Linked DNA regions of Homo sapiens: region 2 is reported to be linked to region 1. Evidence: microRNA targets listed by miRTarBase, many of them from high-throughput screens and not tested one by one. Region 1 holds a microRNA gene; the other region holds the end of a gene's coding sequence.

Evidence for each region. Region 1 holds the annotated microRNA hsa-miR-744-5p (UGCGGGGCUAGGGCUAACAGCA, at 2,912-2,933, shown strand). A microRNA usually pairs through its seed, bases 2 to 8, with sites in the 3' UTR of a target mRNA and lowers its output. Matches are read on the target gene's strand: a 7mer-m8 pairs with bases 2 to 8, a 7mer-A1 pairs with bases 2 to 7 and ends in A, and an 8mer does both.
Region 2: the mRNA of FRZB is a reported target of hsa-miR-744-5p. The part of its 3' UTR that is shown has no 7-base or 8-base seed match.

What each region holds. Positions count from the first base shown.
Region 1 is chr17:12,078,998-12,083,064 of GRCh38, forward strand. It overlaps MIR744 (microRNA 744), which reads left to right and starts at 2,902; the gene lies at 2,902-2,999. MAP2K4 (mitogen-activated protein kinase kinase 4) reads left to right here. Exons shown (of 11, transcript NM_003010.4): 3 at 2,359-2,533.
Region 2 is chr2:182,831,272-182,835,336 of GRCh38, reverse strand. FRZB (frizzled related protein) reads left to right here. Exons shown (of 6, transcript NM_001463.4): 6 at 372-2,062. The coding sequence ends at 488. Among named protein-coding and RNA genes, the nearest start is that of FRZB, 33 kb to the left of the region's middle.

The DNA.
Region 1 (4,067 bases):
TTTTACAGCACTTTTTCTTTCTAAATGAGAAACTTGGAACTCTGGGTAGGAATCACATTCTCCTCTTTTAGCAGCTTTGCTGAGATGTAATTCACATATTCTGCAGTTACACATTTAAAGTGTATAGTTCATTTGCTTTTAGTATATTTAGTATATTTACAGAATTGTGCATCTGACACCTTATTCAGTTTTTGGATATTAGCCCAAGTAGGTACCCTGTATCACTTCGCTTTCAACTTATTCAGTTTTAAAAAGAAACTACAGTGAGCTAAACTATTAGTAGAGATATTCCATAATACTAAAATTTGATCTTTAAAATAAGACATAATATTGTAACTGTTTTCATTCTGTAATTTCTATATAGTAATGAAATATCTTTCATTTCAGTTCTCAAGAATGCTAGCATAAGTATTATATAGCAATGTAGTCATGAGAGTCATATTATATCATCTTTACCATATTCTCTTGGTTAGAGGTAAGTCACAGGTCCCACTCACACCCAAAGAAATATGCCTACACAAAAATACGAACACTAAGAAGGTGGGGATCATGAGGACTTCCTGGAGCCTGTCTGCCACAGCCCTTCAATTAGCGAACACTGTAAAAAATTTTGCTTCTGATTTACAAGTAATTTTAATTAACTTTTTTTCAGCTTCCCTCAGTGGTAGATTGGTGCTGTATATTTCACCAGTGATTTTGCCATTGAGATAGTATTTACTTGCCAAAGATTATAGAACAATAATCATTATACATGGAACTTCTTCATGTTAGAACTTTTTTCAGGCTTAATCTGTCTACTTCATGAAAAAGATTACCAAGAAGAGTTTCCTATTTTTGCCTAGACCTGATTTCCATCTTAAAAGATCAGTTCCAGCTTCATCTTCACCTAAATGGTCACTTATGCCACTGATTTCCGGGCTTCTTGTGATTCTGGATGCTAGAGTATCAAATAATATGGGTGAAAGGACTTTGAACTGAAAAGCACTTGTATGAATGAAAGCTTATCACTTAGTATGATTTGAAAGTCTGTTATTTGGAACACTGATTTAGTAAATTGTTATTTAGACCAAGTGTATGAATCTTTGAAGTGTAACTTTGAACCTTAATATTAGTACATACGATTATTCTCAGAGTGGGGGTAGATTTTAAAGTTCTAAGTTTTTTGGGAACCTTAAAGGTTGCTACAGAAAACCATTCTACTAATTGGAGAAAACTTTCCTAAATTTTGGAAGAAGAAAAATAATGACCAAGCACATAAACTTTGCTTGTTTGCATCATAGGATCAGAGTTTAAAAGAGATCCTGATCATTTAGTATGAAACTGAAAAATGTAGTTGATATTTAATGAATTCTTTCATTGTGTGTATGGTTGATAGTTTGTTCCTACACATTGGGGTTTGGTGTGTGTGTGAGAGAGAGCAAGAGAGAGAAACAGATTGATTTTACATTTTTCATTGGATTTACTTTTTTACAAAGCATGGTTAGAAGTTATTAATACTTTGATCTCCAGGTTGAGATTTTGGAGATGATTTTTTATTTAATGGAAATATGTAATGAGTGAGCTCTTTTGTCTACGAGCCACTCATTTTTTATCCCATTGCTTTATCGAACGAGGGCTGAAAATTTCAATTTTGAATAGCACATGGCAATTTTCCTCTTAGAGCCAGCTAGCTATTCAGTTAACTGTTCTCCCACCTCAGGATGGTATTAACAAGAACAGGACAGTATACTAAGGCACTAGTTCCCAAACATTACTGGAATCATCTGGGGGTCTTTAAAAATACTGTTTTCTGACTCCTGTCCCTGGATAATTCAGATGTAATTGCTATGGGACGATACCTGGGCATTGAGATTTTTAAAATCTCCCCCAGGTGATTGTAAGGTACAGCAAACCTTGGGAATAGTTGTACTAACTGAAGATTGAGGCACTGGAATAACTAATGTTGGGTAAGATAGGGTAAGAACTTTTTCGCAATAAGGTTTGCAGCTCTTGGGATTCTCACTTGATAATGCTGTTTGGATAAACCATCATCCAAGTTTGAATAAGATCTTATATTTAGAAATGAAAACTGATCTGCAGAATTAGTTTAATCAATAAATGGGAATTTTTAAAAATCTTCTTGGCAATTTGTTTTTATGAATCCCGTTGAAGCTGTGTCTATTGACTACCTAAATCTAGATCATTCTTAATCCAGTGTGTAAAAAACCAGGATGACACAAATGAAAAACTTCAAAAACCTGGAGGTCAGACTATTTTAGTAATTTAGAAAACATTTTTCCCACACATTAATCAGTACTAAAAGAAAAAAGTTAAAACCTATTTAAAATGTGGAAAAATTGCTTCCCAATATTTTAACAGAGAGAGACTGAGAACACACAGCATTGAGTCATCAGGAAAACTGAAGATCTCCCCTGAACAACACTGGGATTTCACTGCAGAGGACTTGAAAGACCTTGGAGAAATTGGACGAGGAGCTTATGGTTCTGTCAACAAAATGGTCCACAAACCAAGTGGGCAAATAATGGCAGTTAAAGTAGGTGATGCCATGATTATTTTTGGTACTTTAATCCATTAGGTGAAATTTCATGGTGCAGTAATACCACTGTTGTTGTGTTCCTACTTTTGTGGTAAATGTGGGTGTTTAAAAAATTGTTTCTCCAACTCCTTTGAGGGTGTTCTGTGTAGAGGTTTCTTATTGGTGGCACATTTTCTATCTCTTTGGAAACATGAGTGTATGAAGTGTGCATGTTGATTGCATTTTTGGCATGATGCATTAACATGTTTTAAACTTCAGGCCCTTCTACTGCCAAGGTGAGTTCAGGCTGGGCGGCTGCACCCCTGGGAGCAGGGCAGTGCTGCACTGAGCCAGGCGGGAGCTGGAAGAAGACGCAGCACACTGGGTTGGGCAAGGTGCGGGGCTAGGGCTAACAGCAGTCTTACTGAAGGTTTCCTGGAAACCACGCACATGCTGTTGCCACTAACCTCAACCTTACTCGGTCCTGACCGGCTCGGCTTCTGTTTGTTTATTTCATCTCTACTCAGTACTGCCCTGTTCCCTGGTTTTAAAGTTGTACTGAAATGCATACCTTGTGATAATGTTGTCACATTTTGTCCTTATTGTGTCGTGCCACTTAATATGTTCATTAAAAAAAAAAAATGGCCAGAAACAGAGATTTGATCCATAGACAATACCTGGCAAGCTTATGCTGGTACCTGTAAAGAACTGGTGGTTTCCATCTGACTCCTAGTTTCATGTAATTGTAATTTATTCATTTGTTTGTTTAGATGTTTAACAAATCTTTGCTGTATGTAAGATATTTCAGGAAAATCAGCAACAGGGGGAACAACTTGCAAAAACAAAGGAAAAAAAGCTAGCTGTGGCCATACCCTCTCTGAGCTTAAAATTCCTATGGGAACAAAAATGTTTCAGTTTACAAGAATTCAGAATGGATTTGCATATAGTCCAAGCTAATCATCTTCCTATTAGTGTCCTATTTTGAGAGTTTGTCAGAGTGGTTGATAAGAGTCCTTAGTTTTTTCTTGACATTTGAGAATGAATTTAAATTAAAATAAAATGCTTTCTGTGTAGAAGTCTGTTGTGAGCCAAACCTTACTGTAACTATTTTAGTATCCTTCACTGTTGAGCATTTCTTTTTGCTGGGTCATATGAAAGTAATGTTAAATTAGTGGTAGGGAAAATTTTTATGATTCTCTCTATGGGTTCCTAACATTGTTTTTGGCTGTATTTTTAAAATGTGGTGAGAACTATAGACTTTTCATAGGCAGGTGTATATACACAACATTTTGTATACAAACCGTAGACCTCTAAAGATGCACAGGTGAAGAACTCTGCATTATGTGTTAAAATAAAATGTTTTATTGGAATGTGAAATGATTTCTGTATTCCTATTTTGTGCCACTGCAGTGTAAGTGGAAAGAGTCATTTTATTTAGACTCCTGGATGAATGTTGTGTTGTCCCTTTGTGCTACCTGTGTGTGACATCCAGTTTTAGTTGGCTGGATCTTAAGGGAAAGGTTTCCTATATAGTTAAAGTTGTAAACTTTTC
Region 2 (4,065 bases), not on the chromosome of region 1:
AATTCTGTGTGTAAATCTTCCATTTGTTGAGTATCTGTGAAGCACTAGCCTCCTGTATGTTACCTCAGGAAATACCCAGAGATATAGGGAGATATTTCTGTCATCATTTATAGACATGGACATTTTAAGTTTAAGGTTTGATAAGAAAGCATTACTAAATACATTATAGATGTTGCGCTTGTTAAAGTCAGAGAATAATGTTCATATTGCATCAGTTTTCTTGTTACCCTGGGAAATAGATTGATACTTTTGGAAAAGTAGCAAAATGCTTCAGAGATCTGAACTTGCAGTCTGACCCAGTTGTTAGAATCATGGAAATAATGACCCTGGTGATATGTGCTTGTGACTATTTTCTATTTTAAATTTCACAGCGCTGGGATATGAAGCTTCGTCATCTTGGACTCAGTAAAAGTGATTCTAGCAATAGTGATTCCACTCAGAGTCAGAAGTCTGGCAGGAACTCGAACCCCCGGCAAGCACGCAACTAAATCCCGAAATACAAAAAGTAACACAGTGGACTTCCTATTAAGACTTACTTGCATTGCTGGACTAGCAAAGGAAAATTGCACTATTGCACATCATATTCTATTGTTTACTATAAAAATCATGTGATAACTGATTATTACTTCTGTTTCTCTTTTGGTTTCTGCTTCTCTCTTCTCTCAACCCCTTTGTAATGGTTTGGGGGCAGACTCTTAAGTATATTGTGAGTTTTCTATTTCACTAATCATGAGAAAAACTGTTCTTTTGCAATAATAATAAATTAAACATGCTGTTACCAGAGCCTCTTTGCTGGAGTCTCCAGATGTTAATTTACTTTCTGCACCCCAATTGGGAATGCAATATTGGATGAAAAGAGAGGTTTCTGGTATTCACAGAAAGCTAGATATGCCTTAAAACATACTCTGCCGATCTAATTACAGCCTTATTTTTGTATGCCTTTTGGGCATTCTCCTCATGCTTAGAAAGTTCCAAATGTTTATAAAGGTAAAATGGCAGTTTGAAGTCAAATGTCACATAGGCAAAGCAATCAAGCACCAGGAAGTGTTTATGAGGAAACAACACCCAAGATGAATTATTTTTGAGACTGTCAGGAAGTAAAATAAATAGGAGCTTAAGAAAGAACATTTTGCCTGATTGAGAAGCACAACTGAAACCAGTAGCCGCTGGGGTGTTAATGGTAGCATTCTTCTTTTGGCAATACATTTGATTTGTTCATGAATATATTAATCAGCATTAGAGAAATGAATTATAACTAGACATCTGCTGTTATCACCATAGTTTTGTTTAATTTGCTTCCTTTTAAATAAACCCATTGGTGAAAGTCTTTTTTTTTCTCTTCTTTTAAAATAAATCAGAATTGCCGTATTGACCAGGAAAAGATTATGTATGCACGTGCACCAGGGTTAGTTTTTAAAAGTACATGGCTCCATAAAAATGCTGTAGATTACAGAGTGATAAAATATGCAGGTTTTTTTGTTTTTGTTTTTTCTGTTGTGTGTGTGTCTGTATTTGTGTACATGTGTGTCCTTGCACTCACACCCAAGGTGGATTAAAATACAGGCCTGCAAACTGGCCTGCACTTTATCATTTGGATTTGTGCTGCTTAATGCTCAGCGAAAAATGTCTAGTAAAATGAATTATGGTTGTCAGGAGAGAGGTTATTTCGACTTTTGAACCAATTGCACATTTCTCATTACCCAAGCTGTGGTGAGATCCCAGGGGCTGTGGTGAACAAATGATGCTTTTATAGATGGTCCCTAGCTTACAATGATTCAATTTACAATGCTTCAATTTAACAATTTGTTGACTTACAATGGGTTTATCAGGATGTAACCCAATGCATTTCAACTTACGATATTTTCAGTTTCGAATGGGTTTATCCAGATGTAACCCCATCGTAAATGGCGGAGCATCTGTACTTCCTTCCTCTGGCAGAGTTCCTTAGAGCCTGTGCCAATTACTTGAAAGTTTCATTCTCTGCCATTTACATGTGTGCTATTAGTAGAACCAAATTTCTAAGCTGTGGCGTGCTGAAAATAAAATGCTTATGAAGCAAAAATCGTGCTATGTTTCCTTCTACAAGGATAATCAAGCAAGGATGAAATTCATTCCTGAACAAAAGTTTCCTAAAATGGTAAATAATCATCTATCTAAATGTTCTATTTTAAAAGTGTGAGCTGGGTGTGGTGAGTGCACCTGTAATCCCCACTACTTGGGAGGCTGAGGAAGGAAGACGGCTAGAGCCCATGAGGTTGAAGCTGCAGTAAGCTATGATTGCGGCCACTGTACTCCAGCGTAGGCGATAGAGCATGACCCTGTCTCTGTAACAACAACAAAAGTGTGAAAGTTCATTCTACAAATTGGAGTCACTCATATCATACCCAACTAAAATGGAGTCGGGAGGCCATGGGGAAAGGCACCCAGGTCCCTGTTCCAGGAACCATTTTTGCAGTTCAACAGAAAAATCACGAAGACCTAACTCTAACCTTAAGATAAAGTTACCTAGCTGCTGCCACTCACCAATCAGAACTTGCTAGATCCTACAAGACGCGCCTGGCTCCAGTGAACTTTCATTCAAAACCATTTAGATCACCTTCCTCTCTTCCCCAATAAAACCCCAGCCTTTCTCTTTGTTCTTTGAACACAACTAGAGGCTACACTGGTTTGTGTGCCCAGAATTACAATTCCAATTCTTATATTCCCAAATAAACCCTTTACTTGGAGATTTATCTCCCTATATTTAAAGGTGACAGAGTAAGGGAACATTCCTGCCTTCTGATTGACTCTCCAAAGCCAACAATTTCCCCAGCCCCAGAAGAAAACATTCCCACCTTTGCCTATAGGACTGCATAGTCTTTTGAGCTTCCAAAAGACCACTTCCAAAGGGCTTGCCATCTGCCCATTGTTGCTATATTCTCAGATGGCAAGGACATCTCTTTTGAGGTGCTGATGTCCTACCCTTAAAAGGTGAGTTGGGTGTCACTGGGGAGTAATGAAGCGCCACCGTGGATGGACTGCCCCTGAGAATCTCTCTTCCTGGTATGTAAGCCTCAACTTGAGCCTGAGGACAGAGGGGTGGAAAGTAGTGCTGGTGCCTCAGCCTGTTTTCCTCAGGCTTTCTCACGTTAACTCTGTAAAGAAGGACAAGAATTGACTACAGGAGAGGTTTAAAGGAACCGTTATCTCAAATCCACAAACCTCAACTCTCTCAATGCACAGTAAGCAATGTTAAGTAAGGAACTCTTTTGATGTATAAAAGCTGCAGATGTTTCCAGCTTCTGCAGTTTTTTTTGGGGGGTGGGGGTTGGGTAAAGGGGGTATGATCAGTTTCTGTGTAGGAATTTGACACACTTTATGCTTAATATAAACAAAACACGGCCAGATTCTTAGATTCAGCAGTTTTTTTTTTTTTTAAACCACCTTCCATTCGGTGCCATTTTACAACCTACTGTTTTACCACTACCATCTATAGTGGCAATGTTTGATTTTGCTCACCTATATGAGGCTTCTGTCAGCTGTTTAAACATTTCTAATGGTATAAAGCCCATGAATAAAGTACATTTGGTTTTTCAGTTTGATAGCTACAATATCTTCATTAATAAACTGTGCAGACCTCTTTTGGGAGGATGGCGTGATTTATCATGATGGTCACGTTTCTCAGGAGACTGCAAAACCATTTCTACTCTAGTTGCCATAGTACAAAGACACCTCGTTAATGCCTCTCTATAGGGTTTTCTTGCAGATAGTAACTTTTAAAGCCACTAAAAATTTAATATACATGCATCCTTGTCAGTAACCTTGAGATTGATAAAATTTATATTTCTTTAAAAAATTTTATTCAACTTTAGGATTTTAATTTTCTTAGCCAAATTAAAGTCAGATGCATGCTGAATAAAGTAGCAAATACTTAAATAGCAGCAAACATGGATTCTCTTTTCATGGATATGTATTTTACTGTGTCACATACAATGTAATCTGATTCAGTGCCATATGTTGCACCCAGCATTCAGGGATGGGGTGAGACAAACTGTCTTTCCACATGTGTTACACATTAAGAAGGCA